Linked DNA regions of Homo sapiens. The protein of the gene in region 5 purifies or fractionates together with the protein of the main gene of each other region. This does not show direct contact. Each region holds a gene or a part of one and is shown on either strand. Other genes may lie near its edges.

Region 1 (5,441 bases), on a different chromosome or scaffold from region 5:
TTAAATATTTGACTTGTATTTTGATAACTGTTCATAATGCAGTGTTTTTATACATCCTATTTTAATGGGTTTTTGTATATCCATATTCATATATATATGTATATATACAGTTTCCCTGTCTCATAACTATCCTGTTAAATGGTGAACAAAATATATATTAATAAATATATTAATAAATATTTTGAAGGGTCTAAAATATGGCAGACCTATAATAGCCTTTTTCACCTTTTGATTCCAGGCCCAATTTTTTCCCCATATGCCCTACCCCTTTTATTTAAGTATCATTCTAGTCCCTTTTGAGGTTTTTTTCTTTTGAGCACTCAAAATTCTTATTTTCCATTATACTTTTTATGCATAGTTGAAGATAAACTTTACCTTTTAGAAGGATAACTTTACTCTTTGGCCTCTTATCCTAGTTTAATGGTATGAGAAATACCTGTAAAAAACTCCAAACTCATCTAGTATTTTTGCAATTGAGTGCTTATTAAATATATATTTCCTTACACTTCAATTAAGTAAAAGCCCAAATCATTTTGAAAAGTTAATTTTTGATGTTTTCACAGGAAGAGATGCTTCTGTCCCATACCATGTTTATTTTGTCATTTTCCATTTAGTATTAAAGTATGAGATTCTTATTGACTTGAAAATGAAGGTCAAACAGCTGTGGTTGTATGGAGGGGTAAGGGTGAGGATAGCTGTTAGTAAGATAGCCTTCCGTGGAAATCTCTTCAATAACATTCTCAGTAATTGGTGTTTCAGTCTCAGTGTAAATCCTTTCATGGAAATTATATTTTTCAAAGGGTTCATTATGTATATGAATTTTAAAATTCATTTATATAAGTTTTACTTGATCCTTTTCTAAATTTTTCTGTTCCTTGTTCATAATGTCCTAATTTGTTCATAATGGTACTGTTTCTTTTATCTCTAATCATTTTAAATATTCATATTTTCTAGTCCTTCTGATTGTTTTAACATGTATGGGTTTTAAAGATGGATATTGTTTTCTTCCAAAAATACCCCCACCACCTCCTAGTTGAGAACTTTGTGAATCTAGTTTCTCTACTTTGCAATTGTCTACCTATCCTGAAATATATTTTCGTTAATAATAATCTCTTTCCCTTCAGCTTTTATTTCTAAACAGTTTATAATTAATTTGTAGAGGAGAAAACACTCTAGAGGTTAAATGGTTTGCTCACTTGTAGTCAATTTCAAAGGCAAAATAAGAACCCATTGGTTCTCTATGGTTCACATTTTATCAGTAGGCCTTATACCTGAGTATTAGTGCCCTAAGTATAATGTGGTATAAGATCTCAGATTATAAAATACAGTATATAGGTTCATTTGGAACTTTTGAACAAAATTATAAATCAAGTTACATGTACTTGGTGGCTGGTTTCTTAAGGGAAACCCTTACACAGCCTCTGTGTGTACTTTAAAAAACAACAACAGTAATGTTGTTTTTGTTTTATGTCATCCCGTAATTTATCCTTTTTTATTCAAATTACAATGTATGATCTTATTCATTAAGCTTAGCTTGGGGTTTGACTTTTCTGTTGTTTATGAAATAGCTGTGGAATTGGCTAGTTGTTAACACTAAAACCTTGCCTACTGATGGATAATAGTCAAAAAGAATCCAAGGTTAAAAGTTTTTCAGTAGCTGAATTTCCTTCTCTGTCAAAGCCAGAATTTACTGACTTTTAGGGCAAGGGTCATCTATTTGATCAGTGCAAAAAGTGGTAATTTAGGCAAATGCCCGAGTGGCCTTTTAATCCTCCCTATTATGCATTGTGTACAAGTATTTCCTAGCCCTCTGGTGCTTCATGTATAGAAAATCTTGTAACAGCCCATTCAACACTTCTCCACAGCAGCACCAACAAGGGAGTCAATTGTGGTCGAGACTTTTCAGATGTGGACACCTGTTCTCTAGAAGTTTTACATAAGCCATAAAGTAACCGTCACTAACTTTGTTGATACGGACTCAGTTCAGACGGGCAACCTTGAAGTGAAGTTGCTTTTTGAAAACTTAGTGAGCTTCTCTTCTTGGTGGTAATGAGCACTGTTAGAGAAGCTATTATGGAAAGTTTTACTTTGGTACCACCTACAAACTCTGAATGTAAAATTAAGAAATATAAGGTCAGTATTATAACTTTGAATATGTTTGAGTTAATCACTGTTGTTTAGAAATGCGCTCCAAGGCTATTGAAGGATATTTGTCCTTAGATTAAATCACCATGTATTACTATTTATTTAGTTCTACTTTTTTCTCTTTTATTTCCTATTGTTTTTAGTGTGCTTGCTTCTAGATACCCCTCTTCTAATTTGGCCATAATAATAAGCATTCTAAAGGTATCAGTTATTACCAGGTATCCTGTGTGTTTTATCTATATGAAGTTTTTGTGGAGATTTTTGTTCACATTTATAGATTGAAAAACTGGAGCACAAAGAGATGAAATAACCAGCTCAAGAATAGAGCCAAAAGGCAGAGAGGTCATTCAGCTTGGCTCCTGAACCCATGGATTTAACTAACTAGTTATTATTGCCAAGTCAGTCTTGCCTCCTAAATCTTTTGTATTTGTCTCCTTAGCTCCAATGCCTTTGTCCTGATTCAGTGACTCATTTCTTATATGTCCATCGTTTTCTAATAGGTTTCCTTGCTCCTGATTTTTTAATCATTTATTCTATCCTCCATCTCTTACACTACCACCAGGGTCATCTTTCTATCCTGATACAATCATGTCATTTTTATGTCAGATCAACATTCTTCAGTGGCTTCCCATTACTTCTCCTACTGGATTAAATTTAAACACTTTAACATGGCCTGTAGGGCTGCTTACTTTCAATCCTGCCTGCCTGTCTAATGTTAATTCCTTCCATTGTCATGTTCCAGCTTCAGATTCTGACATACCGAATTCCCAAATGTGTCATTGTATCTTACAAATCTATGCCTTTGTCCATGCTATTCTCTTCAGAATCAGAGTATCCTACTGATTTCTGTATCCCAATTCACCTAGCCAGCTTTTACCATCCTTCAAATTTTAATTATAGTATTTTAATTCTGTCTGAGATACCTTTTCAGATATCTAATTAAATAATTATTCCTCTTGATTTCCATTATACCTTACCCTCATTTATGGTAGTTCTTATTATCTCATTTTGTTGTAATTGTTTACAAGGTTCTCTTCCTCTAGAATGCGAGCTTCTTGAGGATAAACATATCTGTTCATCTTTATAGCTCTACTTTCTAACACAGTGCCTGGAACGTGGAAAGTGCTCACTTGAGAATTGTTGAATGAATCAGTGTATCAGTGAATGAATGAATGGTTCTCTTTTGACCCTGAAAGAGGCCAATTAAATTAAATCTTAACTCATACTGCTAAATTCAGTATGAGTTAAGAATAAATTAGGATCAGTGTGAAGGACTGATGTATTCTTTCTCAAGTCATATATACAATATAGATTATGTTATTTAAAGTATTGTTAATTCCCAGAATAGGAGATGTGAATTATACACCTAATATCTCCAAATAAAGAGCTTTAGTTTTAGGGTATAAGCTTTGTGATTCTGATCTTGACTAAATTAGAGGTCACTTTGCTTCTTCTTTGCTGAGTACCGAATAGTTGAAGCTGCTGGATAAATCACTGTTTAATAAGCAAGATAGTACTATACTTAGACAGGCACTGTGATAGAGCTATTATGAGGAGTTATGGGATCTTGGAGTGATGACAGTGGTGGGGTAACTATTTGAGTTGATGGGGGGAGAATATCAGAGTGAGGCATCTTACAGAACACAGGATGGTAAGTGCTCTACAATAGATACTGTTGTTACATTCTGAATACTGATGTTACAGAAATTCATCTAGAGTTGTGTTGTCAAGTATAGTAGCCACACATGTCTGGTGAGCACTTGAAATGTGGCTAGTCTGAATTGAGATGGGATAGAAGTGTAAAATACACAGTGGATTTCAAAGACTCACTACCCACTCTCCAAATGTAAAGTACCTATGAATAATTCTGTTACATTGATTACATGCCACAATGATTAATATTTTAGATATATTGGGTAAAATGAAATATATTGATAACAGGTGAAATTAATTATTATTTCATTGTAACTACTAGAAAATTTTAAATTACATGTGTTACTCACATTACATTTTTGTTGTGCATTGCTAACCCAGACTTTTTTCAGAACCATTTACACTTCCGTTAGTTTTAGTATGCCATTCTAGAGTCTGCTGTCCTTACCTGCTTTGCCTAATCAGTACTAAGCAATTCACTTGGGGTATTTATTCTACCCTTGATCTTGTTTTGACATTTATTTTTTTTAACTGGTTTTTAGATTTTGGAAATTTTACTTGTCAGTTAATACTGTGCTTTGAGAGAAATAGTTAATGAGATTAACCAGCAGCTTTGTTCTTATTTAAATAGCTCTTTGTTTTTAAAGAAATAATGATTTCAAAAGCGTCAAGTAGAATATGTGTGAGAATTTTATATATTTTATTGTATAGTATGAGACTGAATATTACGTATTTCCAACCCATTTTTTGAACATACTTTACTGTTCTTGTAGTATGCTTCACTTACTCTCTTCTTTCCAGGATTGAATATGATGCATATCGCACTGATTTGGAAGAACTGAATCTTGGACCACGTGACGCAAACACTCTGCCAAAGATTGAGCAGTCACAGCATCTCTTCCAAGCACATAAGGAAAAATATGATAAAATGCGCAATGATGTTTCTGTCAAATTGAAATTTCTAGAAGAAAATAAGGTAAATTCTTTACCTTCTAAGGTCTTTCTGTGGACTTTGAAGTCACCCTAAAGAGAGATAGTCAGTTTTTCTGTTTCTGTTAACTCTCTTGTATGACAATTGCAAGAAGGAATTCCATTTGTAATCAGTGTTTGAGTTTTTAGAAGCATACAAAATATATTTACCTTTCTTTGATAAAAGTTATCAATGCCACCGTCCCAGTCTTTCACATATAACACATGGCAAAAAGTATTTGATGGACAGCCATTGATCTTTGGATTGGCGTTGATAGCAAGTGCTTTAAAAATTGAAATAATGATAGATTATGCTCTGAATATTTTGAAGCTTTTCTATTAATGATAGGTACAGATTTCAGGAAAAGAACTATGGCATTCTTCTCAGCAATTGATAAGTGAAAAATAGCTAAAAGGTCCAGCTTAGGGCTGCAGTTAGCATAACCTAGGAGAAGGAAGCCAAGAGATCCATTTTCCACATTTTTTTCATATGTGAACACATCTAAGGACTAGAGCAACGAGGGCTGAACTGGACCAGCTGTAGGTTTCAGCAGGAAGTGGATTCATATACTAATAGGCTCCTGTGTTTTGGTTTAAGTAAAAGGATGGTTTCTCATGTTTGACATATCTCTATTACTTGCATATTCAGCTTTGTATGCAGGATTGCAGTTCTG
Region 2 (5,252 bases), on a different chromosome or scaffold from region 5:
GCTCCAGGCAGCTCCTGCTGGTGTCTGGGGCCTCTCTCTAAAGCCAAGTTCATGTCCTGGCTTACTGGATGCCTGGACAATCCAGCAGAGCATGGACCCCCCACTGTGAACAGGGGCCTCTGTGAGCCGTCAAGGCCAGGCAGTAGCCTCAGGCACCATCACCCACCTAACATAGTTGAGAGTTGGCCTGCGGCTGTGCAGAGTAGGGGGCTGCCTCCACTGAGCCTGGGTGCCAGCAACCCCAGCAGTGACCCCTTCCTCACCCTGCTGCCCCTCTGGCCCTCGTCCTCCATCCCCACTTCGTAGGCTGCAAGATTTCACATCTGAGCAAATTCTTTCCTTCTCCCAGTGGCCTTGAAGCCCAGGCAGGGCTGCTGGTTCCCAGGGGTAATGGGGGCAGTGGGGACCAATGGTCAGGACTCTCCACCTCCCCTGAACGGGGCTTGCATGGGGCTAAGCTCCCCACAACAGCCGAGCTCCCACTGCTCAGCTGCACTCAGCCCGGCCCCAGTGGTCCCTAATGAATATGAGCGGCCCCCGCTTGCAGCAGATGGAAGCAGCCCTGAGGGAGCTCGAAATATTAAACTCTTCCTGGGCACAGGACACCAGCAGCTCAAGTTCCTCCTCCTCCCCTAGAAGGACCCGGAGGCAGGAGCCGGGCCCCAGGCAGAGAACCACCGCAGCCAGGCACAGGACGAGACGGCCTCTCAGGAGGCAGCCGAGGAGGCCACACAGGGCTGCCAGGACAGGGCCAAGGGCACACACTCTTGCCATCATGCTCTCTCCCACAGCGGCCACACGGCCCACACAGCCAGGTGTACCCTCAGGTCCCTTCTCACCACGAATACCCCCGCCTCCCACAGCTGGGGGGCCACGCTTTGTGCCCAAACCCCCAGCTTCCCCTCTCAGCACAGCTCACACAGAGCCCTGCTGGGCAACTCAGCTGCCTGCTTGCACCCCTACCCCAGGCCCCGGCACCCCAGCCGTCTGCATGGATGAGCGGGGGAGGGGGAGGCCACCTGGGCCAGACAAAACAAGGAGGAAAGCACCCGCTCCTGTCCCTTAACTGCCCTGCCTGTGGCTAGGCCCACCTGGCCCTCCAACGCTCATCCCACAGGAGGCCAGGCAGGGAGAGGCTGGGACAGACCTCACAGGCACCCACCCACTGCCAGCCCACTTGGGGAGGGGGTCACCCGGCCCTCCCAGACTCATGCTTTGGGACAGATACCCCAGGTGGAGGTGCTCAAGGCAGGACAGGGCTGGTGGCTAGAGCTCTCCCACAGCCCCGAAGTCCAGCAGCAAATGGGGTTTCCAGTCGCCCTGGATATGTGGAGCTAACCCAGATGACCCCGAAGCCCTCCAGGCCCAGCCCCCACGGCTGAGAACACAGAAGGGCTGGCTGCCAGGGCCGCGGGATTAGTGCCCTCACTCGTGCACATGACCGGTCCCAGCAGGGGGGCCGCGGGGGCTGGGTGCACATGGGCCCTGAGCCTGGTACAGCCTGGCCAGGCGGTGCGGGGCGGGGGGTGGACAGGCAGCCCCTGTCTGCCCTCAGCTGGGGCCCGGGGCTCTGGTCACGTCCTGCCTCCCCAGGTCTCCTCAGCTGGGCTGGTGCCTGCTGACTCGCACAGCCCTCCCCTCCCACTGTGGGGACAGGACACCCCGTGACTCATACGGTGGGCAGCCTGAAGACCCCGAGACGCAGGATGGGCAGAGGGTGTGGCCAGGGTCTGGGACCGCACGCACCTGGCCGCAGCCTATCAGGGACTTTGCCTGGCACAGCCAACAGAGCAGGCAGGTGGGTCCCAGCTCAGCCCAGCCTCCCAGCAGAGCCTCCCGGCTTCTCAGGACCCTTCTGTTCTCGCTCCACCCACCCTGCCTGTGCACACCTAGCTTTGGTTACCAAAGGGCCTGGCCTCCACCTGGGACAAAGGGCCAAGCAGCCAGCCCCAACCTGCCCAGATGGAGGTGTGAGCTGAGCCCAGCCCCGCCTCTCCCTCCTCCCTGCACACAGCTACCTGCCTCCCATCCCCCACGCAGCCCCAGCCAAGGCTCCCACGGGTGGCCGGACCCTAGACCAGGCTGCACGAGTGCAATGCCCAGAGCAGGCTCCCGGGAAGCTGGGTGCTCCCTGAGTCAAGTGTGGCCCCAGCGCCAGGCACGGCCTCCACCCATGAGAAAGCTGAGGGAGGAGCGTCCAGGCCGCTCCTGGGGTTCCCGGCTTCAGAAGGACCACCTAGGCGGCACCTATGGGAAGAGCTGGCGGAGAGACGAGAAGGAAAGGAAAACTGACAAGAAGGGACTCAGCCAACAACAGTGAGAGCCTCTGGCCACCCAGGATCTGCCTGCACAGGGGTAGAGGCAGGGAGGAGCCCAGCCTGGGGCTTGGTGCTGGCCAGGAGGTGGTGTCAGTAGGAAGGGCAGATGTCAGGGTGGCTCTTGGGTCTAAGGATCAGAGAGCGAGGCCTTGGGAGTGGAGGCGGAAGTTGCACAGCAGGTGAGGGCGGACGGCCCTGGGTGTCCAGGACTGAGCCCTGGGGACACTGACACGCTCCAGCTGGGCAGAGAGCCAAGAGGGGAGGAGGGGAGTAGGGCAGAGGGGACGGGAAGGGGCCGCCAGACAGGTAGGAGCCAGGCCAGGTGGTGCTCCACGAAGAGGAAAAGCTACAGCGCCGAGTCTCAAGGGAGGCAGGTGTGAGGATGAGAATGGGTGTCCCACCCTCCAGGAAAGCAGCCCGGGCGTGGCTGCAGCACACAGCAGTCTGCTCCAAGCTCAGCCCTGCAAGACGGGGCACCTGCCGCTTCTGCCAATGGATAACTTAAGTGGGCCTGTGCCTGCCAGGCAGGCCCCCACCCCGGCACACAGGCCAGCAGCTCCCCACTGCCCAGAGCAGGGCTGCACCCCTCGGAGGCGGGCAAGGGTATCATACCCTGTGCAGGCACAGCCAGCCCTGGGGCAGGCCCCTCACCGACTCCCACCACCCAGACAACTCCACTGAAGAGCTGCCCTTCACCTGTACCCCAGGAAAAGCAGCAGCACCGCCAGCCGCTGAGGTGCACAGTGAGCCGTTGGCCCACAGTCAGGTCCTGCTAGACTCCGGGCCCTGCAATCCCTGCACTCCACCCCCACGCCCGGGGGTCACAGCCAGTGGTCCCAACCAAAGGCTGGGGTCAGCACGGTGGCTCACGCCTGTAATCCCAGCACTTTGGGAGGCTAAGGCAGGCGGATCATCTGAGGTCAGGAGTTCGAGACCAACCTGGCCAATATGGTAAAACCTCGTCTCTACTAAAAATACGATAATTAGCTGGGCATGGTGGCAGGCGCCTGTAATCCCAGCTACTTGAGAGGCTGAGGCAGGAGAATCGCTTGAACCCTGGGAGATGAAGTTTGCCCTGAGCCGGGATCCTGCCACTACCCTCCAGCCTGGGCGACAGAGCAAGACTCTGTCTCAAAAAACAAAAAATAAAAAAAGGCTGGCCAGGGTGGTCAGACAAGGCCAGGCACAGGACCCGCAGGGGCACCTCGCACCCCCACCAGTGAGTGCTCCTGGCCCAGGGGCCACAGAGTACATGGGACAGCCCTGCCCCACAGCCCACCGTGCCGAGGCCAGCAAGCCATTCTGAAAGGCAGGGCAGCCCCACGCCTCTGTCCCCTCCTGATGGACATTCTGGCTCTTCCCAGGCAGGGCAGCTGGCCTGTACCCAGGCGGGAAGTCACAGCCAGCAGGTCATGCTGCTCTGGCAGGGCCCTGCCCGGGCCACCTGGCCATGCCAGGTATCGTCCATCTGGACCCCCACCCCTTCAGGCTGGCCCGAGCTCCTCCCTCCTGCTGGTCCAGGGCCTGTTTCCCAGGCTCAGCCTCTCCCCCACTGCATCTTCCTGCTCCTGTTGGCCCTCCGGCCCCCACCCTGCCCTTCTGACCCTAACCCAGCCGCAAATGACCCCCACAGTTCTGTCCCTTCTTTGCTTTTTTCTTTTTGAGACAGAGTCTCACTCTGTCGCCCAGGCTGGAGTGCAATGGCGCGATCTCGGCTCACTGCAAGCTCCGCCTCCCGGGTTCAAGCAATTCTCCTGCCTCAGTCTCCTGAATAGCTGGGATTATAGGCGCCCGCCACCACGCCCAGCTAATTTTTTTATATCTTCTTAGTAGAGACGGGGTTTCACCACCTTGGCAAGGCTTGTCTTGAACTCCTGACCTCGTGATCCACCCGCCTCGGCCTCCCAAAGTGCTGGGATTACAAGGTGTGAGCCACCGCGCCCAGCCCAGTTCTGTCCCTTCTGAGGGCAAGATGGCCAGACTCTAGGCAGTGGCCTCAAGTCCCAGGAAGAAGCCAGGCTCCCAGGGATGGCCACACAGGTTAAGGGGAGGGGTTCTAGAAACAGAAACCTGAACTCCGTACTCGCCCCACAAGCCCCATGACCCCGTCTGACTCCCAAGCTGAGGCGCAGTTTCTCTCTACAAAGGGGGAGCTGTCCCCACTGCCACCTCTGGGGCAAGCCCAGGAGGTGCCCACCTCACACAGCAGCCAGGGCCAAAGGTACAGACGCAGGGGAGGGAGAGGCAGACAGGAGCTGGAGGAGAGAGGCTGTGGCTATCAGACTGACCCCACCTTGATGGGCTGGGGTGATGCTCGGGCGAGGGTCGGGGAGATAGACCCACGTGGCTCCAGGAGTGGGAGGGGCCCTGGACCCAGCCCCAAGCCCCCACTGGAAGCACCTCAGGAGGGTTAGCACGGATGCCTGGGCCGGCAGATAGAGCCGGCAGGGGCACCAACGCCCTGGTTCCAGGAGGGGAGTATGGCACAGGGAGAGGCGCAATGCCAAGGCCAATCCCGGGCAGGAAGCAAACAGAGGGAGGCAGCAGCCTATCTGCTGAGGGAGCCTGCAAGGTCCCATCCCCAGCCTGGGGAAACTGAGGCTGGAGGACAGCCCGCCTCAGGGGTGAGCCTAGCCAGCAATGGCTCTGGGGCAGTGCCTGGATAGGAAGACCCAAGGGAGGCGCCCCAGGCGCCCCCCCTCAGTCCCCAGGAAAGGTACACCTGCTTCCTGACAGGTCACCGCAGACCGGGAAGTCACATGGAGCTGCCCTTGGAATTTGCCCCAGGGAACAAATACAGGTGCAGGAATTACCAGAAAGAATCTGAAGATTTTTTTTCCTGTGCCCAGAGGATTCCAGGCCACTGGCCAAGAGGGAGACTCCCCTGCCTGGCTGGCTCAGAGCCTCCGAAGGCCCCTTCTCCCCAGCAAGCTT
Region 3 (5,441 bases), on a different chromosome or scaffold from region 5:
GAATAGAATTATGTGTTTATTGCTTTGCGATAGATTCCTCTGACACTTTTACTTTTAATGCCCCTAGAGGTCAGCAGGAAGGCGCCTATCTTTGGGTGGTTTCTATGTGCCCGAATCCTACTACAGCTGCAGAATAAGTGCCTTCAAGCAGCTGGTTCCTTTTTGTAAATCCCTCCCTCTTGGAACTGCCTGGTGCACCAGGGCCCGCCTAATCTGTCCAATATACTGCTCTTTGTTCCCTCGCAGACTCTAGTAGACGGTCCTAATAGCTGCTTCTTGGGCATAAATAGGATGTGAGATCACTGACAGCCTGGCACGCAGCCCTTTGGTACCTCTTCTTCCTATGTGTTTTACAGAAAGCAGCACTTTGGAGATAGTGATTGCGTTTGAAACCAGCATTATTGGGAAAAGAATCGTTTAAGTAATCGATTCCATTTTTAAGGTTTTGCTTTCAAATATTCAAAAGTATCAGAGCACACTTTTTTTAAAAAGAGCTTATTTGAAAAAAAAAAAAAAAGGTCCCTGCTACTATTGCTAGATACAGAGAACGATTCTGTGATCTTGAAAGTGATTAGTATTTTAGACTGCAGATGCATTTTGTTATTACTGTCCTTCTTCGACACCTGGTGTCTTCTATTACCAGAATTGCATTTTGTTGTCTAAAACATCCTATTACTCTTTATAAAAATCAATATGAGCTATATGGCTTGTTTATAAAATGTGAATGTCAAATTAGCTATATTGCCATCTATGTTAGCTAAAATTATGATTCTTTAGACATATTAGCTTTCATTTATGAAAGATCCATTACAAAAACTAAGGTTTTCCTTGCACAAATTGATATTTTTCTTTTTTTTTATGACAGAATTGTTGGCCACCTGTATTATCTGGGGGGATCAGTCCTTGCATTATCATTGAAACACCTCACAAAGAAATAGGAACAAGTGATTTCTCCAGATTTACAAATTACAGATTTAAAAATCTTTTTATTAATCCTTCACCTTTGCCTGATTTAAGGTAAGAAAAATTTCAGTAATTTTATTTCAAAGATATAAAGTTGTGCTGATTTAATACATGGCACTATTTTGTCTTTTGCTTTCATAAAGTAGAAAAACGTGTAAAAATTGTTTACTAATATTTAATCATATGTCATTTTATCTGAGAGTAGTGCTGGTTGCAAATGATATGGGTATTTAAAACACTGATTCTATAAAATTATTTTCATTTGCTTGCTGAGTACTATAAAGACTTAACAGGACTGAATTAGTTTTTTGTTAAGATAGAAACATTTTTACATGTACAGCTTTTTCCTTTAAAATTTTTATTCGTGTTTCTTGCAGCTTCAACTCAAAGGAAGCTTTTCCAATTGATGTATCAACCCTATTTATTTCTTACCAAACTTAATAAGGTCTATACTTAATTCTTTTTTCTAGTCCATGAGTGTAACTAAGAGGTACAGCTTATACAAAACATGTACTGTATTAATTTATGATTGGCCTTAATAAGCAATTTAATGGAATCAGACACTTAAACTCACCAATCCCCCTTTCCCTGCATTCTGTCCCACCTTACCCACCCCATAGGTGATCCTGCTGTAGATGATCTATTTAGAGGTGATTGAGACTTCTCTTGACTGTGATCACATGCCTTATGTGTTTAACTTTTTTGTATTGCTCTTGAGAAAACATTTTTTTTCACTTTTAATTGCATTTATTTTAGTGCTGAATTTACTCCTGTGCCATAAGTTTTTGTTTCTTCAGTTTCTTCTGGGATATCTTTTTCTTCTGGGCAACCGCCTCTTCTGGTTTAGGAACAATTTGTTCCTTTTCACTAAAGATCATTTCGATGTGGCAGGGAGAGATCACGTGTGAGTTAATCCGACCATGAGCTCTGTAGGTCCGTTGGCACATCGTAGGTGCTTTGTTCACTTGGAGATGCTCAATGACCAGAGAATCTACATCTAAACTCTTAAGTTCAGCATTACTCTCTGCATTTTTAAGCATGTGCAGCAAAAATTCAGCACTCTTTTTGGGCCACCAACCTTGTGTCCAGTCCCACTGCTTGGCCTGGGTACACCTACCAACTCCACCATTGTAATGTCAGAATGGCACATGCTGTTTCTGTAAAGTGACATTTTAAAAATACTTCATGGTGTTTTTTTTTTTTTTTTTTTTTGGAGACAGAGGTTTGCTGTTGTTGCCCAGGCTGGAGTGCAGTGGCACGATCTCGGCTCACTGCAACCTCCACCTCCTGGGTGCAAGTGATTCTCCTGCCTCAGCCTCCTGAGTAGCTGGGATTACAAGCATGCCACCACGCCCAGCTAATTTTTTGTATTTTTAGTGGAGACGGGGTTTCACCATGTTGGCCAGGCTGGTCTCGAACTCCTGACCTTAAGTGATCCACCCACCTTGGCCTCCCAAAGTGCAGGGATTACAGGTGTGAGCCACTGTGCCGGCCACTTTGTGGTTTTTCATATATGCATACCCTTGATAGCCTGGGCAGTTTCACGAGTGTTCTTACAGTGAACACAAAGATTTGAACCTCTTGATTTGCATGATTTTGTGGGGTTTTCCAGGTAAAGTGAATAGCCAGCTATTTTCACAGATTACTTCAGACCACTTATGGGAAAAGCAACGTGGTTATCTTTTAACAGCAACCTTTGTAAAGTATAAATAAGTGGAACTAGAAAGCACTCCCTTGAAATCTGCAGGTTTGGATGATCATAGTCCAGGTTCCCACTGTGTTACTTCAGGCTTCTATTTATTCATGCAAAGGAAATTGTTTCCAAAAATTAAGGCAGAAGTTTTTTTTCTTATTTACTTTAAGAGCTTCTTCCAAGTTCTAATTAAAAGTTGCATTTCAATGTCTGAAAGTTGAATTTTATCTATGTGAAACAGAGTTTGTATATTACATGGATTGCACAATTTAAATTATGTTTTTTAGCCGGGCATGGTGGGTCACGCCTGTAATCCCAGCACTTTGAGAGGCTGAGGCAGGTCGATCACTTGAGGCCAGGAGTTCGAGACTAGCCCAGCCAACATGGTGAAACCCCATCTCTACTAAAAATACAAAAACTAGCCAGGCTTGGTGGCAGGCACCTGTAACTCCCAGCTACTTGGGAGGCTGAGGCACAAGAATCGCTTGAACCCAGGAGGTGGAGATTACAGTGAGCCAAGATTGTGCCGCTGCACTCTAGCCTGGGCCACAGAGCGAGACTCTGTCTCAAAAAAAAAAAAAAAAAAATATATATATATATATATGGTTTTTTTCCTCTCTTTCCATAGCTGGGGATGTTCAAAAGAAGTCTGGCTAAACATGTTAAAAAAGGAGAGCAGATATGTTCATGACAAACATTTTGAAGTTCTGCATTCTGACTTGGAACCACAGATGAGGTCCATACTTCTAGACTGGCTTTTAGAGGTATGTTACAGCAATACAAATTTCCTTTGTCTCTGTATGATGGAAACATATTTAGCTGTAAATGTGCTTTCTATGTACTCTCAAGAGTTTATTGTTCATCCCCAGGAAGCTGTCTTTTTTGAGGTACTTACTGTAGTTGATTGCACCCAAAGTGGAAAGTGACTCTATAAGAGTAAAACCATGACAAAGCTACTACATATAACTAAACCCAATTCAGAATTCCTGTTACCTGTGGATACTGCTGTGTACCAACCACTTTCTGGGTGCCACAGATACTCAAGGTGAATGGAATGTATAGTTGATTAGGTTTTGAATTATGCTATACAAAGTGAAGAACTAGAACTAGGCTTCAGGGCCCTCTGAAGTCTTTTTCTGTATTAACAAAATCATGATGATGAGGAATCCTGATTTCTATATCCTAAACCATAATGAGACTATGGATATCTGGAAGCTCTACGCCCTCTATTGTCCAGATACCTTCTCTTTATTATATTCTTCTATTCTTTTCCGAAATATACCATTAATTTAAAGGAATAGTGATCCTGAAGCCCCTATAGATTTGTGCCAGATTTTTCTCTCTTGTTTAGGTCCATTCCCTTTCCTCTGGATAATAGCTCTAAAAAAGTTTCTAAAATTATTATTAAGGAAATCATTACTTATGTTGATGACAAACTGATTTTTCCTCCAACTCTTGGATATTTGCTCTGTAGTCTGTCTTTAAGACAAGAGATGAAGCATTCTAAGGGAAAAAGACCATAGACTTTTTGGAGGAGGAACACATGGCAGAATAGATCTCAGAAGCTATCAGAACAGTTTTTAAGACTAAAATGTTATCCTTTTGCATCAGGTCATCTTTTTCCTTATTCTGACTAGAAGGAAAGATTGTATTTTAATTGTGGGCACAAGAAGGCATTGGGTTTTGACTTTTTCTGACTGTCTAGTGATCATGGAATCAACTTAAGCACAATTATGTTAATTTTTAATTTGTTTCCTTTTTGTTATACTGATATTCATCCAGTGGTTATCCAATTCAATTTGTTCCTGTTTTTACCTAAATATGATTATGTATGCAACAGCATACAGAATATATCAAATCCAGCAGTGTTAAACTCTATCTTAGTGTATTCTTCAGTCTAGGAATGCAAACTTGATTCAACATTTGAAAATCTATTAATTTATTACCTTAACAGTAAATAAGAAAAATGCTAAGATCTCAATAGATGCAAAAGACATTTTTTGAAATTCGACATTCTTTTTTTTTTTTTTGAGACGGAGCCTCGCTGTTGTCACCCAGGCCAGAATGGAATGGCACGATCTCAGCTCACTGCAACCTCTGCATCTCGCGTTCAAGCGACTCTCTTGTCTCAGCCACCCACATAGCTGGGATTACAGGCGCAGGCCACCACACCTGCTATATTTTGTATTTTTAATAGAGATGCGGTTTCACCCTATTGGCCAAGCTGGTCTTGAACTCCTGACCTCAAGTGATCCGCCCGCCTTGGCCTCCCAAAGTGCTGGGATTACAGATGTGAGCCACCGCACTCGGCCAGCAAAAGAGATTTTCTTAACTCATTATTAGAAACTCATGTGGCCAGGTGTGATGGCTCATACCTGTAATGCCAGCACTTTGGGAGACTGAGGCAGGCAGATCAGTTGAAGCCAGGAGTTTGAGACCAGCCTGGCCAACATGGCAAAATCCCATCTCTACTAAAAATACAAAAAATTAGCTGGGCATGGTGGCACACACCTGTAATCTCAGCTACTCAGGAGGCTGAGGTAGGAGAATCGCCTGAACCTGGGAGGCAGAGGTTGCAGTGAGCCACTGCACTCCAGCCTGGGTGACAAAGTGAGACCCTGTCAAAAAAAAAAAAAACTCTGGTATATATCTCTATTTCCTCACCTCCAAAATGGGGATAATGGTACCTACTTACGGAGTTACTGTGAGAATTAAAATCTTTCCCTAAAAGTGTAGAAATGACAGATACTATTTATTATTAATAACAATAGTGAAACATCAGGGC
Region 4 (5,441 bases), on a different chromosome or scaffold from region 5:
TCACCCCGCCGGAAGGAGAGCCTGGTGGGAACACCGGGCCCACCCTTGGCGAGGACGGGGCAGTTATGGAACCTCTAGCAGCCCCGTACCCTTCTTGGAGGATGCCTCTGAGAAGCCATAGCCAGGGATGGAAGGGCAGATGACTTCAAAAACGTGCTCATCGCTCAGGCCATGGTTCTTGGGGTCAGTCAGGAGTGGGATGATCTTATAAAACTCGTAGAAAGAGCCGGGCCAGCCGTGCACCATCAGCAAGGGCTTCGGGGTATGGCCTGCGGGCAGCTGGGGGGGCTTCACGTGGATGAAGTGGATGTCCAGCCCTGGGGGGACAGAGCACAGTCAGGGTGGAGGGAGAGAGAAGACCCTGCACGGTCAGGCTCTGGCACCCCCCAGAGCCTAGATATTGAGTCCTGCCACCCTTAGTGCCCCCGCCGCCCCTTCATGGTATTGACAGTAATAAGGGCTGACACTGGTTTCACACTCACACTGTGCTCCAGGTGCACAGATGTCCTCACTCAGCCTTCACAACCTCCCTGCAAGGGAGCTACGATTATTGCCTCCCGGTTTCCTTAGAGGTGCCCCCTGACAGCTGGGCCAGGTCTGTACAGCCACTGCTGGGTTTCCAGGGCTCAGGACAGCTCCTGGCTCACAGCAGGCCTCCATAAATACTTGTTCAATAATTTAAAATCTGGAGGGTAGGGAGAAAGCCCCACGTATCCAGCAATACAGGATTAATCAAGTATAGTTTGACAGTATACTGGAGTCCAGTACAGTCATCTAAACTGACAAGGTAGATGTATATTTATTTAACATAGAAAACTGATCAGAAGATATTGCTGGGAGGTAAAAGCAAATGATCAAGTCATATCCATTGTGTGACCCAGTTTTTATAAAAAGTCATCTATGCTTATACTGTACTTATACTATGTATTGGTGAATTTTAAAAGTCTGGGAGGATAAACTCCAAGAATGTAAAAAGCAGTTCTCCTGAGCAGTAGATTCCAGTGCTTTTAATTTCTCTTTGAGTTTTATGTACTTTCCAATTTTTCTACAATGAACAGGTATTAAATGCATAATTTTTTTCATACACATTGACAAAATGTCACCTTTTTCTGATTACCAAATGATATTTTCTTTAAAGTGGAGTATTTTTGGGCCTGGTGTGGTGGCTCACGCCTGTAATCCCAGCACTTTGGAAGGCTGAGGCGGGTGGATCACCTAAGGTCAGGAGCTCAAGACCAGCCTGGCCAACATGGTGAAACCCCGTCTCTACTAAAAATACAAAAAAATTACCCGGGCATGCTGACAGGCGCCTGCAATTCCAGCTACTCGGGAGGCTGAGGCAAGAGAATCGCTTGAACCTGGGAAGCAGAGGTTGCACTGAGCCGAGATCACACCACCACACTCCAGCCTGGGCAACAGAGCAAGACTCCATCTCAAAAAATTAAAATAAAATAAAGTGGAAGATTTTTTTTTAAGTGCAATGCTGAAAACATCATCATAGCCAAGGGCAGGTGAATGGATTCTTGTCTCCTCTGGACTGACTTGGGGCCTCTGCATATCAAAAGAAGGCAGCCCCTTCCCAGGCCAGTGCCCTGGACAGCACCTGGGGCCTTACGGCATTCACAGTGAGGGCGGCTGCCATGCTTGGAACTCTCTGCCACCAGGGCTGGTGCAGTCAGCATGGTCTAGCTAATGTTCTGTTCTGTCGTTAATATATTATACAAATAATACATGTTTACTGTAGAAAACTTAGAAAACACAGATAAGCCAAAGGGGGAAGACTCACATGTAATCCCACTCTCTAAAGAAAACATGGTGTTGTCTGTCTAAACTTTATTTTGGAACAGTTTTAGATTGCTGAAAAACTGCAAAGAATCCAGAAAACTCCCATATACCTCACACCCACCGGGTTTCCTCCATTATTAATATTTTATGTTAGCATGGTACATTTATTACAATTAACGAACCAGACTGAGATATTATTAACTATAAAGTCCATTGATTTCCTTAGTGTTTACACTTTTTATTATATGGCGAGAACACTTAATATGGGTCCTACCCTTTTAACAGATTGTAAGTGTCCAACACTGACGGCGCTCTGCTGTACAGCCCATCTCTAGGATGTATTCGGCTGGCAGGACTCAAACTTTACACAGCAACGATCAGCAATGCCGTTTCCCCTATTCCCCAGCCCCTGACAACCACCCTTCTCCTCTCTGCTTCTGCTGAGTTTGACTATTTCAGATTCCTTCTATAGGTGGAATCATGCGGTATTTGTCCTGTCCCTGGCTTACTTCACTTAGCATTATTTCCTCAGAGTTTATTCATGTTGTCACACATTGCAGGATTTCCTTTTTTTTTCTTCTTCTTTTAGAGATGAGGTCTCACTGTGTTGCCCAGGCTGAAGTGCAGTGGCACAATCACGGCTCACTGCAGCCTCAACCTCCCAGGCTCAAGTGATCCTCCCACCTCAGCCTCTCAAGTAGCTGGGACTACAGGTGGGCAACACCATGTCTAGCCTATTTTTGTTATTTTTTTTTGTAGAGAAGGGGTCTCGCTATGTTGCCCAGGCTGGTCTCAAACTACTGGGCTCAAGCCATCCTCCCACCTTGGCCTCTCAAAGTGTTGGGATTACTGGCGTGAGCCACCACACCCGGCCAGGATTTTCTCCTTTTTAAAACCTGGATAATGCTGGTATCTACACACAACAAAATATGAGCCAGATTTCCTCAGTTTTTCCCCTGATATCCATTTTCTGTTCCAGGATCCCATCCAGGACTCACACACCACTGAGCTGTCATGTCTCTTTAGACCCTTCTTGGCTGTGACAGTTCAAACTTTTTAAAAAGACTTAGAGAACATAACTTTTAACAAAAATAGAACCATACATACATTCTATTTTAGAATCTCTTTTTTTTTAACTTAACAATGTATCCTGGGTGTCCTCCTATGTTGCCAAATTTACTCCTATTCTAAAGGACCAAGGCCAAGAACAGGCCTCCAGCCCCGGGCAGGGTGCCAGAACCACACATGGGTAAGTCCACGATGAATTCAATGCTGGAAACTGGCTCTTTTGGAGCCGTTGTACCTGAGGGAGGTTTTGTACCATAAATGCCCAATGTCAGCTGGGTGTGGTGGCTCACACCTATAATCCTGATACTTTGGGAAGCCAAGGTGGGAGAATTGCTTGAGCCCAGGAGTTTGCGATCAGCCTGGGTGACATGGTGAGACCTTGTCTCTACTAAAAATGTAAAAAAAAAAAAAAAGGAAAGAAAAAACAAAGGCCGGGTGCCGTGGCTCATACCTGTAATCCCAGCACTTTGGGAGGCTGAGGCAGGTGGATCACGAGGTCAGGCGATCAAGATCATCCTGGCTAACACGGTGAAACCCCGTCTCTACTAAAAATACAAAAAATTAGCTGGGCATGGTGGCGGGCGCCTGTAGTCCCAGCTACTCGGGAGGCTGAGGCAGGAGAATGGCGTGAACCTGGGAGGCGGAGCTTGCAGTGAGTCGAGATTGCGTCACTGCACTCCAGCCTGGGTGACAGAGCGAGACTCCGTCTCAAGAAAAAAAAAAAAAAAAAAAAAAGCCTAGTGTGGTGGTGCATACCTGTGGTCCCAGCTACTTGAGAGGCTGAGGTGGGAGGATCGCTTGAGCTCAGGAAATTGAGGCTGCAATGAACTGTGATCACACCACTGCACTCCAGCCTGGCTGACAGAGTGAGACCCTGTCTCTAAAAAAAACCCAGTCTCATGAAGAACCCTGAAAGGGTCCAGTGGGGTAAGGCTGGCAGCTGCCAGGATGGAAAGGGCCCTTTACTGCCTCCTGCCTCTGGGCCTTTGAACATGCTGTTCCCCTTTCTTGGACCACCTTCCCCACACACCTGGCAAAGTCCCACTCATTTCAGCTTAGATGCCACCTCCTCCAGGAAGCCTTCCCTCACATTCAAAGGAAGATTGTGGGGCTCATGAAGCTCCCAGAGCCTCCTCCTTCAGAACACCGCCACTATGTGCTGGAATTGCCCCTGAAGAGCCTATGAGCTGTGAAGGAGGGACCCTGTCCTCTCTATGCGTCCCCAGCCCCAGCAGAATGCCTGGGTACAGCAGGCGCCCTGTTAGTTTCTGCTGGATGGACACTGAAGAGCTGGGACAACACAGGGATCCAAGTCAAACTCAAGGAAGCCAGGCAATTTCGTGCCAGGAATCCAAACAGGAACCTATGGTAATTGCATACAGCAGTTTGGCTGGGATTAAGTGGCTTGGATCCTCTTGTTAGGCTCATAATAGAAGATATCAAATTACTGTAAAGAATACAGCAACACTCAAGAGAAGTCCAAATTTGATCCAAAAAATCATTCCAGATTTTTTTTTTTTTTTTTTTTAGTGTTCTTGGCTGAGCTCCAGGATGGGCTCTAGTTCCAGGACACACACCACTGGGATTTGACTTAGCTTTTCTCTGGCTCATTCTCCCACAGGCCTGGCCTGCTTGCATCAGAACAAGGATGTTTGCTGCCCTGGCACCTCCAAGTCGAGGTTTCCGTCCATCCTTCCTTTCTCCCTTTTTTTTTGAGATGGAGTCTTGCTCTGTTGCCAGGCTGGAGTGCAGTGGCGCGATCTCGGCTCACTGCAACCTCCGCCTCCCTGGTTCAAGCAATTCTTTTGCCTCAGCCTCCCGAGTAGCTGGAACTACAGGCACGTGCCACCATGCCCAGCTAATTTTTGTATTTTTAGTAGAGACGGGGTTTCACCATGTTGGCCAGGATGGTCTCGATCTCTTGACCTTGGGATCCACCCGCCTCGGCCTCCCACAGTGCTAGGATTACAGGTGTGAGCCACCGCACCCGGCTTTTTTTTTTTTTCTTTTTTTTTTTTTTGAGACAGAGTCTTGCCCTGTCACCCAGGCTGGAGTGCAGTGGCGCAATCTGGGCTCACTGCAAGCTCCGCCTTCCGGGTTCACGCTATTCTTCTGCCTCAGCCTCCCAAGTAGCTGGGACCACAGGCGCCTGCCACCACGCCCGGCTAATTTTTTGTATTTTTAGTAGAGACGGGGTTTCACCAAGTTAGACCAGGATGGTCTCGATCTCCTGACCTTGTGATCTGCCCGCCTTGACCTCCCAAAGTGCTGGGATTACAGGCGTGAGCCACGGCGCCCAGCCTGTTTTTTTTTTTTTTTTTTAAAGACAGAGTCTCATTCTGTCGCCCAGGCTGGAGTGCAGTGGTGTGATCTCAGCTCACCACAAGCTCCATCTCCTGGGTTCACGCCATTCTCCTGCCTCATCCTCCCGAGTAGCTGGGACTACAGGCACCCGCCACCACACCTGGCTAATTTTTTGTATTTTTATTAGAGACAGGATTTCACCGTGTTAGCTACGATGGTCTCAACCTCCTGACCTCGTGATCCACCTGCCTCAGCCTCCCAAAGTGCTGGGATTACAGGCGTGC
Region 5 (5,441 bases):
AATGTGAAAAAGAAATTTTAAAAGTAACTCCATTTACAACAGCCACACATAAAATTGAATAACTAGGTAATAACCAAAGAAGTGAAAGATCTCTGTAATGAAAACTATAAAACACTGATCAAAGAAATTGAAGAGGACACCAAAAAAATGGAAAAATATTCCATGTTCATGGATTGAAAGAATCAATATTGTTAAAATGTCAATACTGCTATCAAAGCAATCTACAGATTCAAGGCAATCCCTATCAAAATGGCAATGACATGCTTCACAGAAATAGAAAAAACCATCCTAAGATTTATATGGAACCACAAAAGACCCAGAATAGCCAAAGCTATCTTGAGCAAAAAGAACAAAACTGGAGGAATCACATTACCTGACTTCAATTATACTACAGAGCTATAGTAACCAAAACAGCATGGGACTGGAATAAAAACAGACACACAGACCAATGGACAGAACAGAGAATCCAGAAACAAATCCACACACCTACAGTTAACTCATTTTCCACAAAGATGCCAAGAACACACACTGGGGAAAAGACAGTCTCTTCAATAGATGGTGCTGGGAAAACTGGATATGCAAATGCAGAAGAAAAAAACCAGACCCATATCACTTGCCATACACAAAAATCAAATCAGCCTGGGCAAGGTGGCTCACGCCTGTAATCCCAGCACTTTGGGAGGCCAAGGCGAGCAGATCACTTGAGGTCAGGAGTTCAAGACCAGTCTGGCCAACATGGTGAAACCCCATCTCTACTAAAAATACAAAAATTAGCCAGGCATGGTGGCACATGCCTGTAGTCCCAGCTACTTGGGTGGCTGAGGCACAAGAACTGCTTGAACCTGGGAGGCTGAGGTTGCAGTGAGCTGGTATCAAGCCACTGCACTCCAGCCTGGGCAACAGAGCAAGACCCTGTCTAAAAAAAAAAATCAAATCAAAATGGATTAAAGACTTAAATCTAAGACCTTAAACTGTGAAACTACTAGAAGAAAATATTGGGGAAAATCTCCAGGACATTGGTCTGGGCAAGAATTTCTTGAGCAGTACCCCACAAGCACAGGCAACCAAAGCAAAAATAAACAAATGGGATCACATCAAGTAAAAAGTTTCTGCACAGCAAAGGATACAATCAACAAAGTGAAGAGACAACCCAAAGAATGGGAGAAAACATTTGCAAACTACCTATCTGACAAGAGATTTATAACCAGAATATATAAAGAGCTCAAGCAACTCTAGGAAAAAAATCAAATAATCCCATTAAAAAATGAGCAAAAGATCTGAATAGACATTTCTCAATAGAAGACATACAAATGGCAAATAGTCATTCGAAAAGGTGCTCAACATTGCTGATCATCGAAGAAATGCATATCAAAACTACAATGAGCTATCATTTCACCCCAGTTAAAATGGCTTATATCCAAAAGACAGACAGTAACAAATACTGGTGGGGATGTGCAGAGAAGGGAACCTTCTCAAACTGTTGATGGGAACGTAAATTAGTACAACCACTACAGAGAACAATTTGGACGTTCCTCAAAACACTAAAAATTGAGCTACCATATGATCCAGCAATCCCACTGCTGGGTATATAGCCAAAAGAAAGGAAATCAGTATATTGAAGAGATATCTGCATTCCTATGTTTGTTGCAGCACTGTTTACAATAGCTAAGATTTGGAAGCAACCTAAGTGTTCGTTAACAGATGAATGAATAAAGAAAATGTGGTACATACATACAATGAAGTACTATTTGGCCATAAAAAAGAATGAGATCTATGGCCAGGCACGATGGCTCACATCTGTAATCCCAGCACTTTGGGAGGCCAAGAGAGGTGGATTGCTTGAGGTTAGGAGTTCAAGACCATCCTGGCCAAAATGGCAAAACCCTGTCTCTATTAAAAATACAAAAATTAGCCAGGTGTGGTGGCACATGCCTATAATCCCAGCTACTTGGGAGGTTGAGGCACAAGAATCACTTGAACCCAGGAGGTGGAGGTTGCAGTGAGCCGAGATTGCACCACTGCCAGCCTGGGCAATAGAGCAAGGCTCTGTCTCAAAAAAAAAAAAAGCGGGGCAGCAGGGGTGGAGGGGTTTGAATTTAAAAGGACAGTAAAGAGGAAACAGAAAAAGGGAGTTGGAAAGTACTATGCTCAGAAATCAAATTCTAATTAGATTACAGCTTATGCCACTAGGAAAGAAAATACTTAGTTATTTATTTATTCCTATTTATTTATTTATTTATTTAGAGATAGGGTCTCACTCTGTTGCCCAGGCTGGAGTGCAGTGGCACGATCACAGCTCAATGCAGCCTTGACTTCCTGGGCTCAAGAGATCCTCCCACCTCAGCCTCCTGAGTACCTGGGACTATAGGCACATGCCACCAAGCCTGACTACTTTTTGTATTTTTAGTAGAGACAGGTTTCACCATGTTGCCCAGGCTGGTCTTGAGCTCCTGGGCTCAGCAATCCGCCCACCTCGGCCTCCCAAAGCACTGGGATTATAGGCGTGAGTCACTGCACCTCCCAGAAACGACTTTTAAAACATACATGCATTTTTAAAACAAAGATAACTTTGGCTGCCATACATAAGGACCAGAGACAGAAAAGGACTGGAAGAAGGAAGGTTAACAGGAAGCTATTACTGCAGTACACTAAAGAAGGAATGGTGGCAGACTACGGTAATATTAACAATAGGAGGAATGGAGAGAAATAGATGTACATTACCTTTTTGCTTCAGGCATTTTTATTAAGAAAAATTCTCTTCCGATGGCTCAAGTAAAACAAGCATTGATATCTTGTGCAAAATGGGCATTTAATAAATTTATCAATGAACTGGAGGAAATGAAAGCTCAATATGAACATGAAGATAAAAGACAGTTCCTAACTACTCTAAGTAAACCTTCAACAAGGTATATTGCTCCAAATAAAATTCCACACAGCTGTTGGCAATCATTTAGGAACTATGGTGAGCAGGAGAGGTTGCCAGAAGACTAAAGACAGAAAAATGTAGTACTCGTGTTCAAAAAAAGAGAAATGGGATCCTGCCAACTATTGATCACTGAAGTTAGATGTAATTTTAGACATGATTCTAGCATCATTACTAAGAGAAGTTTGTGAACACTTAGAAAAAGTAGTAATCAGTGCTCCCTTAGTAGCACATATACTAAACGGGAACAAATCAGAGATTAGCATGGCCCCTGTGCAATGATGACACACAAATTCTTAAAGCATTCCACATTTTTACTTGAATTAAAAAATCCTTTTCTCATACAAAAATCAGCCGGGTATGGTGGCAAGCGCCTGCAGACCCAGCAACTCGGGAGGCTGGAGAAGGAGAATTGCTTGAATCCAGGAGGCCACTGCACTCCAGCCTGGGTGACAGAGAGAGACTCTGTCTCTAAATAAATAAATAAATAAATAAATAATCCTTTTCCGAAAAAAAAGACAAAAAAGTAGTAATTAACATATGCTACTGGAATATAGTATAGTTTCACTAAGGACAAGTAATGATAGGGTAAAGAAAACGAAGCATATAAAATCTGGGTTTTAGTAAGGCAACTGTCAAAGTTCCTCACATATTCCTTATGAGAACTTGGAAACATATGAGGTAGATGATGATTAAAATTAGCTGAATTTCTAATTGGGTGACCAACCTGAACCAAAGAATTAATAATAAAATTTTTTATCACCTTTAAGAGAGGTCTTTAGCAGGTAAAGAACTCTGACCTCAGCCCTGCCTAGACAGCATTTTAGTGAAAAATTTGCATGAAAGCAATGCCAAAATTATCAAACTTGTATGTTTATCAAATGCATAGATTTGATATTTATTGGATGACCAAATCAGGATTTTTTTAATGTCAACAGACTAGAAGCAATCTTACAAAATAAAAATATAGATACATGTAAAGTCCTACCAAAAAATATTCTATTAAAGAATTGAGAGAGTATGACTTTAAGAACAGAGAGAGCATGAACAAAATAATTCAACAATTTTAGTTGACAAGGAAACCAATAGTAAAATAGGTATCATACATACATAGTACTGGGATGCCACAACCCATTCTAAATGACTTATATATATATATTAATTATCTTCAGAATTGTGTAAGATAGACACTATTATTAACCCCATATTAGAGATGAGGAGACTTAGGCCCAGAGTGTTTACATAACTTACTCAGGGTTACCCAGCTGATAAACTGCAGAGCTAGGATCTAAACACAGGAAGGTTAGCCCCAAAGTTAATCTTCTTAACTAGTAAATTATTATAAAGTAACAGTGTAATGTGGTTGCCAAAGAAGCAAGTCTACTCTTAAAGTACATGCTTTAAAATTAGAGAGGTAACTTAGTCTTCTATACTAGTTAATACCTAATTTGGGGTACCATGCTTGTCAGAAGAATGTGGATGAACTAAACAAATCCACAAGTGGGCTATGAGTTCTGTGAGGAGATGTGAATGAAAACAATGACACAAAAGTCACTAGCAGAGGTTAAAGACTGAGAATATTTTCTAACACTCAGTGGAATATAAGTATCTTCAAATAGTTGAAAACCCACAATACAGAAGAGACAGTGAGGACACAATTTCTAGTTCAGTGAAAGAAATAATTTTATAAAAATTAGAGTTGTCCAAACATGGCGAGGTGTGTGCCTATAACCCCAGCTACTTGGGAGGGTGAGGTGGGAGGATCACTTGAGCCCAGGAGTTCCAGACAAGCCTGAGCAACATAGAGAAACCCTGTCTCAAAAAAAAAAAAAAAAAGAATTGATCAAATATCTTTGCCTCAGAAACTATGACACTATAAATAGTCTCTCCAAAAAATATACAAATATGCATAATTTTGCATAATATTTCCAAGAGTTCACAAGCCTACTTTCATATCTATTCATGCCGCACACCTAGAGTCATGTATCCCAGATTAAAACGGAAAGGATTTAAGTATGAAGAGGTGAGTGTATTTGATTCTCTTTAAAATCCACTACAATTTAAAATTCTATGATCTAAAAGAACTCTCAATCTATGCCTTCTAGTTTCTTCTGAGATCCATTATAACACATATTGCAATAAGAGTTTAAAAGATGATGACAAGGAAGTACATCCCACTTCATCAGTTATATTGAGGGCACACGGCTCAGACAGTTAAGAATTTTAGCTGCCAGAGAAAAACTTCCATGTGCCACTTGGACTACACATTCACAAGAGTCAGGGTGGGAGGAATTACATGATCACAAAATGAGAATATGAAGTATTACACACTGCAAAAATTCAGCTTTCCTTTTTAAACACCTAGAAATGAAGAGAACTGAAAAGTAAGAGTTTAGTAAGTCTTGAACCTTTTATTAACAAATGTAAGGGCCACAGTGCTCAAACTGCAACTGCACAGCCAGAACAACGCTACAGACACCATGTCTACTCTTAGACTAGACTAGTTACAGGCACAAGA
Region 6 (4,567 bases), on a different chromosome or scaffold from region 5:
AACTCACCACCAAGCCCAGCTAATTTTTGTCTTGCTAATTTTTGTCTTTTTAGTAGAGACAGTGTTTCGCCATGTTGGCCAGGCTGGTCTCAAACTCCTAGGTGATCTGTCCACCTTGGCCTCCCAAACTGCTGGGATTACAGGCAGTGGCCACCATACCTAGCCATTGCTTGGACTTTCTAAAGACTAGCCCCCATCTTGAAGCTCTCTAGGGGCTCTCAGACACCAGCCATCTCATTAGCACATACAAGACACTCTTAGCTGTGTAGTGGCTCAGGCCCATAACCCCAGCCACTTGGGAGGCTGAGGCGGAAAGGGAGGATTGCTTGAGGCTGGGAGTTCAAAACCAGCCTGGGAAACATAGCAAGATGGCACTCATCACTGGTTAGAGTCCAAGGATTTTAGAAGCCAGAAGCCAGGAACCAGAGACAAAGACCAAATATGTATTTCTTATCATGCCACACACAGAATTATCTAATTCTCTATCCTTACTCTTCATAGCATGTATATATTTATTTGTTTGGTAGTTATGTCTTCCCAGGAGAAAGTAAGATCCATGAGGGCAAGATTTTTGTGTTTTGTTATTTTGCTGTTTACTTAGTATCTGTATTACTAAGATTCTCGGTAATAATCAATAAATATCTGTTAAATAAACAAATGAATCTAATTTGTAAATTCTACTACTGCTAACTAATTTAGTCACTTGTGCCATTAGTCCACAAGATGACGCCCCAACCTCCAACCTCCCACCCCAACCCCTGCCTCAGAAGTGAAAGATACTTAAGCAGTTCAAGTTACCAATGGCTAACATGACAATTACAGGGATATAATCTTAAAGGCAGGAAGAAATGTAATTTTAAAAACTCCAGTCATAAGACATACAGAAAAAAACCTATATATTGAAAACTTTTTGGTTATTTGTTATTAAAGCATTATAAGAATACTCATTAAGGAGAGAGGAAAAGACATGACAAGCTGATTGTTTTGGGGGACAGGTTAAGAGGTTGGAGGGAAGTGATTTTTTGTTTTTTCTTATCCCGAACTGTGGTAACTTTATATTTGAGCTGATGAAAAAAAATTCTGGGCCATCCACTGTACTTTTTAAGAGTCCATTTGTTAGACAAAATATGAGGAAATATGGTCTATTTTATCAGCTTTTTTTTTGGTTTCTAAATGGCTATTTAAATACAGATAGCAGTACATACATGACAAACTGGAAGAGCAGGTTCTGCCACGCTGCCAAGTCACCTGTTACCTGATATCTCCTCTCAGAGGGCAGAACCAGCAATGCAGTGTGGCGTAACACAGCTGGAAACGTGCCCAAGCTGGGCCGCCAAGTGCAAGAAGTAGACTTCATGTTAAGAACTGTGAAGGTCAGGACAAATCACTACTTGACATATGCCACTCATATAATTTCAGAAATGAGTAGGAAAAAGAATCCCAGACAAAAGGGAATAGAAGTCAAGTCAAAGTGAAGGCACACTGACTTTTTATAGTTAACTTTTTCTTACAAGTTATATAAATCAAGCCAAGAAATGTAAAATATGATTGTGCACCCCAGTTTTATCTGTGCAGTTCAAATAGGTAGTTTTACTTTGATCAAGACTTCCACACTTGATTTCTGGCAAAAAAAAAAAAAAAAAAGGGAACACTCTTTTTCATGCGGTATATGCTATTTTCTTAAAACAATATATATTTCTCATTAACACTGTTTGCTTATAGGTGGTTATTCTATTTGCACAAATAGAACTGTATGGATAATGAATATAAACTGTTACCATAAATCTTCTAAATTATATGAATGATCATTACAAACAAATGTGCTTAGCACCTATTTTGTTGATAGCCCATTGCCTCTGAGAATCTGCCTTTTCCTAAGACAACTGTTTGGGTTACCTCTCCCGATTTCGTATTCTGGCCACCAAAATAAAAATTTTCAATAGTAACAAAATTAGGTGTCCTTTTAGGACGAGGGAAGTTGAGTGATGTATAAAAACATTCACCCAGAAACCAGGCTTCTGGGCCTAGAGTCCTTAAGTGACTAGTTAAAGTGATTGAAAGGTTCCAGTGTTTCCCATTGCAGGAAATTACTTAATCTCTTAGAGCCTTCTTTTCCTTCTTATAATATTAGAGCATTACATAATTATAAAAGTAACTATGGTTTCTAAATCCTTCCCTGCTCTAAAAATACATAATTCAAAGCTGCTAAAAATAAATACTTTTAAAATTGGCTGTGACATATGTGACATATACATATATAAACAGAGTTTCACTGTGACAAGGGGAGGGGCTATACAATGTTTTGTAGCAGAAATTTACAATGCATCGGTATCAAGATGCTTTTGTTCCTGAAAAAGTGTTTCAGGGTGGCATTCAACCTGAAGGCAAAGTTCTGGGAAGCCCCCAGGCACTTCAGTGGAAACACAGGGCAGTGTTTTGGGGGACCACATCACAGCTCAACTGGGGACCCAGCGGAACTTGTAACCCCCGTTGGCTGTTCTGATGGTGAAGGCATTGCCCTGGGGGAAGGCGAGGGTGCGGATGGTGCTGTGGCTGCGGATGCGGGTGCTGAAGGAGCCGCCCTCCTCCAGCTCACTGTGGCTCAGGTTCAACGCGCTCCGGCTGCAGTCTGTGCGCAGCCCCCGGAAGGCGCCATGCAGGTTCCCGGGCCTGGTGTCAGTATTCGCGGGCTCTGGCAGCAGTCGGGGCCGCTTGGGATCGCGGCTCTGAAGGGCTTCATCGCAGCGCTCGGAAATCTCCCTCAGGATGGCGTCCACTTCCGCGCAATCCTGCCCCGCAGCGCTGACCAACTCCTCCAGGCTCCTTTTGGCCTTCGCCTTGAGCAGGAAGGGCTCGGCCGCCGCCCCACAATCCCGGGACTGTGTGATCATCAGCTTCTACGAAAGACAGGGAAGAGCGCCGCCCTGGGGCCTGCCGGACCCTCCGGGTTCGGAGCGTGCAAAAGGTGACCTAGGCGCGCTACGCACCACGCACTCAGCGGTACTCTCCTCTCCCGGGCCCCCACGGGTCCCGATGCTGGGCGGGGATGCACTGAACTGTTCAGTTCCGACGTGCTGCAGTTCCCACACGCCCGCGCCCCACTTACATCCAGCACCGAGGCCAGGTGCCGGGTTCGGCTGGCGAGTTCCTTCAGCTGCACGTTCCGCTCCTTGAGCGAGGCGATCTCCTCCTGTTTCTGGGTCAATGTCACGTGCAGCTGCAGGAGGAGACCCAAACATTCAGGGGTAGGTACTGTGCTGGGTCTCGTCTGCATATCTGGCATGAATCAAACCCAGATCCTGACGTCTCATCAGGAACTGGGGACGCACAGGCATTTACGCTAGTGAGAATAATAATCAATTTACTTTTTTTTTAAAACAAAGCACTTGGACAAAATTTATCTCCATTAATCCTCGGTGTAGCGTGCTGATAAAGAGTACTGACTTGGGCAACAGGCAGATCTAGGTTCTGTCACCGAAGTTCAACAATCCTATGTCTTGATTTCCTTGTAAAACGGGGCTAGTAAGAGTATCTAGCTCAATGATTGTGAGCATTAAGTGGGAAGAAAAAGTATAAATTGGTAAGTCCAGGGCCAGACACATAGAAAGCCTTCAAAAAATATTGGCGTCCCTATTAAAAATCTGGCAGGCACTATGCAATATATGTATGTAACACAACTGCACTTGTACCTCTAAATCCCCCCAAATAAAACTATTTTTAAAAATAAATAAAATGGCCAGGTGCAGTGGCTCACGCCCATAATCTCAGCACTTTGGGGGTTGAGGCAGACGGATCACCCGAGGTCAGGAGTTCCAGACCAGCCTGGCCAACATGGTGAAACCCCGTCTCTACTAAAAATATAAAAATTGGCCAGGTATGGTGGCATGCGCTTGTAATCCCAGCTACTTGGGAGGCTGAGGCACGAGAATGGCTTGAGCCTGGGAGGCGGAGGTTGTAGTGAACCGAGATCATGCCACTGCACTCCAGCCTGGGCGACAGAGCGAGACTCCGTCTCAAAAAAAAAATGAATAAATAAATAAAAATTAATTAATAAAATAAAATAAAAATCAGGTGGGGTAGAATTATTCCCACTTAACCAATTTGGAAACAGGTGGAGCCACCGGAGCAATGGCAGCTACGTGAACCACCAGTCAGTCCACTGGTTCCGACTCACAGGACCTCATCTTCTCCCTTGCAAACCCCACTTCCACCCTCTATATCCTGTCCCTGCCCCAGGATTCCTGGTCGCCAGACCAGTGTCCCTACTTGATTATTCTCAACAAGCGCGTCTCCCAACGCTCTCTGGTTCTGGTCCGCCACCTCCTTCCAGTATTGCTCAGGCGGGGGCACGTCTGGAGGGCGCAGCGGTGGTGACTGCAGGGCCCGTGGGTCCAGTGGCGGGGAGAGGCAGGGCCCGAATGGTGATATGTCGCAAGGAGAGAAGGGGAAGTCTCCGCTGGCCAGGGTAGGCGACATCATAGAGGATGAGTCTGGAGAAGAGCAGGAGCTGGATTTGCAGCCTCAAATTCATGCCCAGCTAGTTACAGGAGCAAAATGCCACTCTGGG

What was found.
Region 1: the proteins of TFDP2 (region 5) and ARFIP1 purify together in Homo sapiens (affinity purification with mass spectrometry; one large-scale study listed by BioGRID and IntAct). This does not show direct contact.
Region 2: the proteins of TFDP2 (region 5) and TPRN purify together in Homo sapiens (affinity purification with mass spectrometry; one large-scale study listed by BioGRID and IntAct). This does not show direct contact.
Region 3: the proteins of TFDP2 (region 5) and CCNE2 purify together in Homo sapiens (affinity purification with mass spectrometry; one large-scale study listed by BioGRID and IntAct). This does not show direct contact.
Region 4: the proteins of TFDP2 (region 5) and EPHX1 purify together in Homo sapiens (affinity purification with mass spectrometry; one large-scale study listed by BioGRID and IntAct). This does not show direct contact.
Region 6: the proteins of TFDP2 (region 5) and MCIDAS purify together in Homo sapiens (affinity purification with mass spectrometry; one large-scale study listed by BioGRID and IntAct). This does not show direct contact.

The regions. Positions count from the first base shown.
Region 1 is NC_000004.12:152,883,534-152,888,974, forward strand, and holds part of ARFIP1 (arfaptin-1), read left to right. Parts: intron 1-4,599; coding exon 4,600-4,774; intron 4,775-5,441. UniProt on the Homo sapiens protein: Plays a role in controlling biogenesis of secretory granules at the trans-Golgi network. Mechanistically, binds ARF-GTP at the neck of a growing secretory granule precursor and forms a protective scaffold.
Region 2 is NC_000009.12:137,193,137-137,198,388, forward strand, and holds part of TPRN (taperin), read right to left. Parts: intron 1-5,252. UniProt on the Homo sapiens protein: Essential for hearing. Required for maintenance of stereocilia on both inner and outer hair cells. Necessary for the integrity of the stereociliary rootlet.
Region 3 is NC_000008.11:94,888,394-94,893,834, reverse strand, and holds part of CCNE2 (G1/S-specific cyclin-E2), read left to right. Parts: intron 1-865; coding exon 866-1,017; intron 1,018-3,284; coding exon 3,285-3,420; intron 3,421-5,441. UniProt on the Homo sapiens protein: Essential for the control of the cell cycle at the late G1 and early S phase.
Region 4 is NC_000001.11:225,833,530-225,838,970, reverse strand, and holds part of EPHX1 (epoxide hydrolase 1), read right to left. Parts: intron 318-5,441; coding exon 90-317; intron 1-89. UniProt on the Homo sapiens protein: Biotransformation enzyme that catalyzes the hydrolysis of arene and aliphatic epoxides to less reactive and more water soluble dihydrodiols by the trans addition of water.
Region 5 is NC_000003.12:142,142,317-142,147,757, forward strand, and holds part of TFDP2 (transcription factor Dp-2), read right to left. Parts: intron 1-5,441. UniProt on the Homo sapiens protein: Can stimulate E2F-dependent transcription.
Region 6 is NC_000005.10:55,217,910-55,222,476, forward strand, and holds the end of MCIDAS (multicilin), read right to left. Parts: intron 4,491-4,567; coding exon 4,267-4,490; intron 3,218-4,266; coding exon 3,107-3,217; intron 2,898-3,106; coding exon 2,457-2,897; 3' UTR 1,655-2,456; downstream 1-1,654. UniProt on the Homo sapiens protein: Transcription regulator specifically required for multiciliate cell differentiation. Acts in a multiprotein complex containing E2F4 and E2F5 that binds and activates genes required for centriole biogenesis.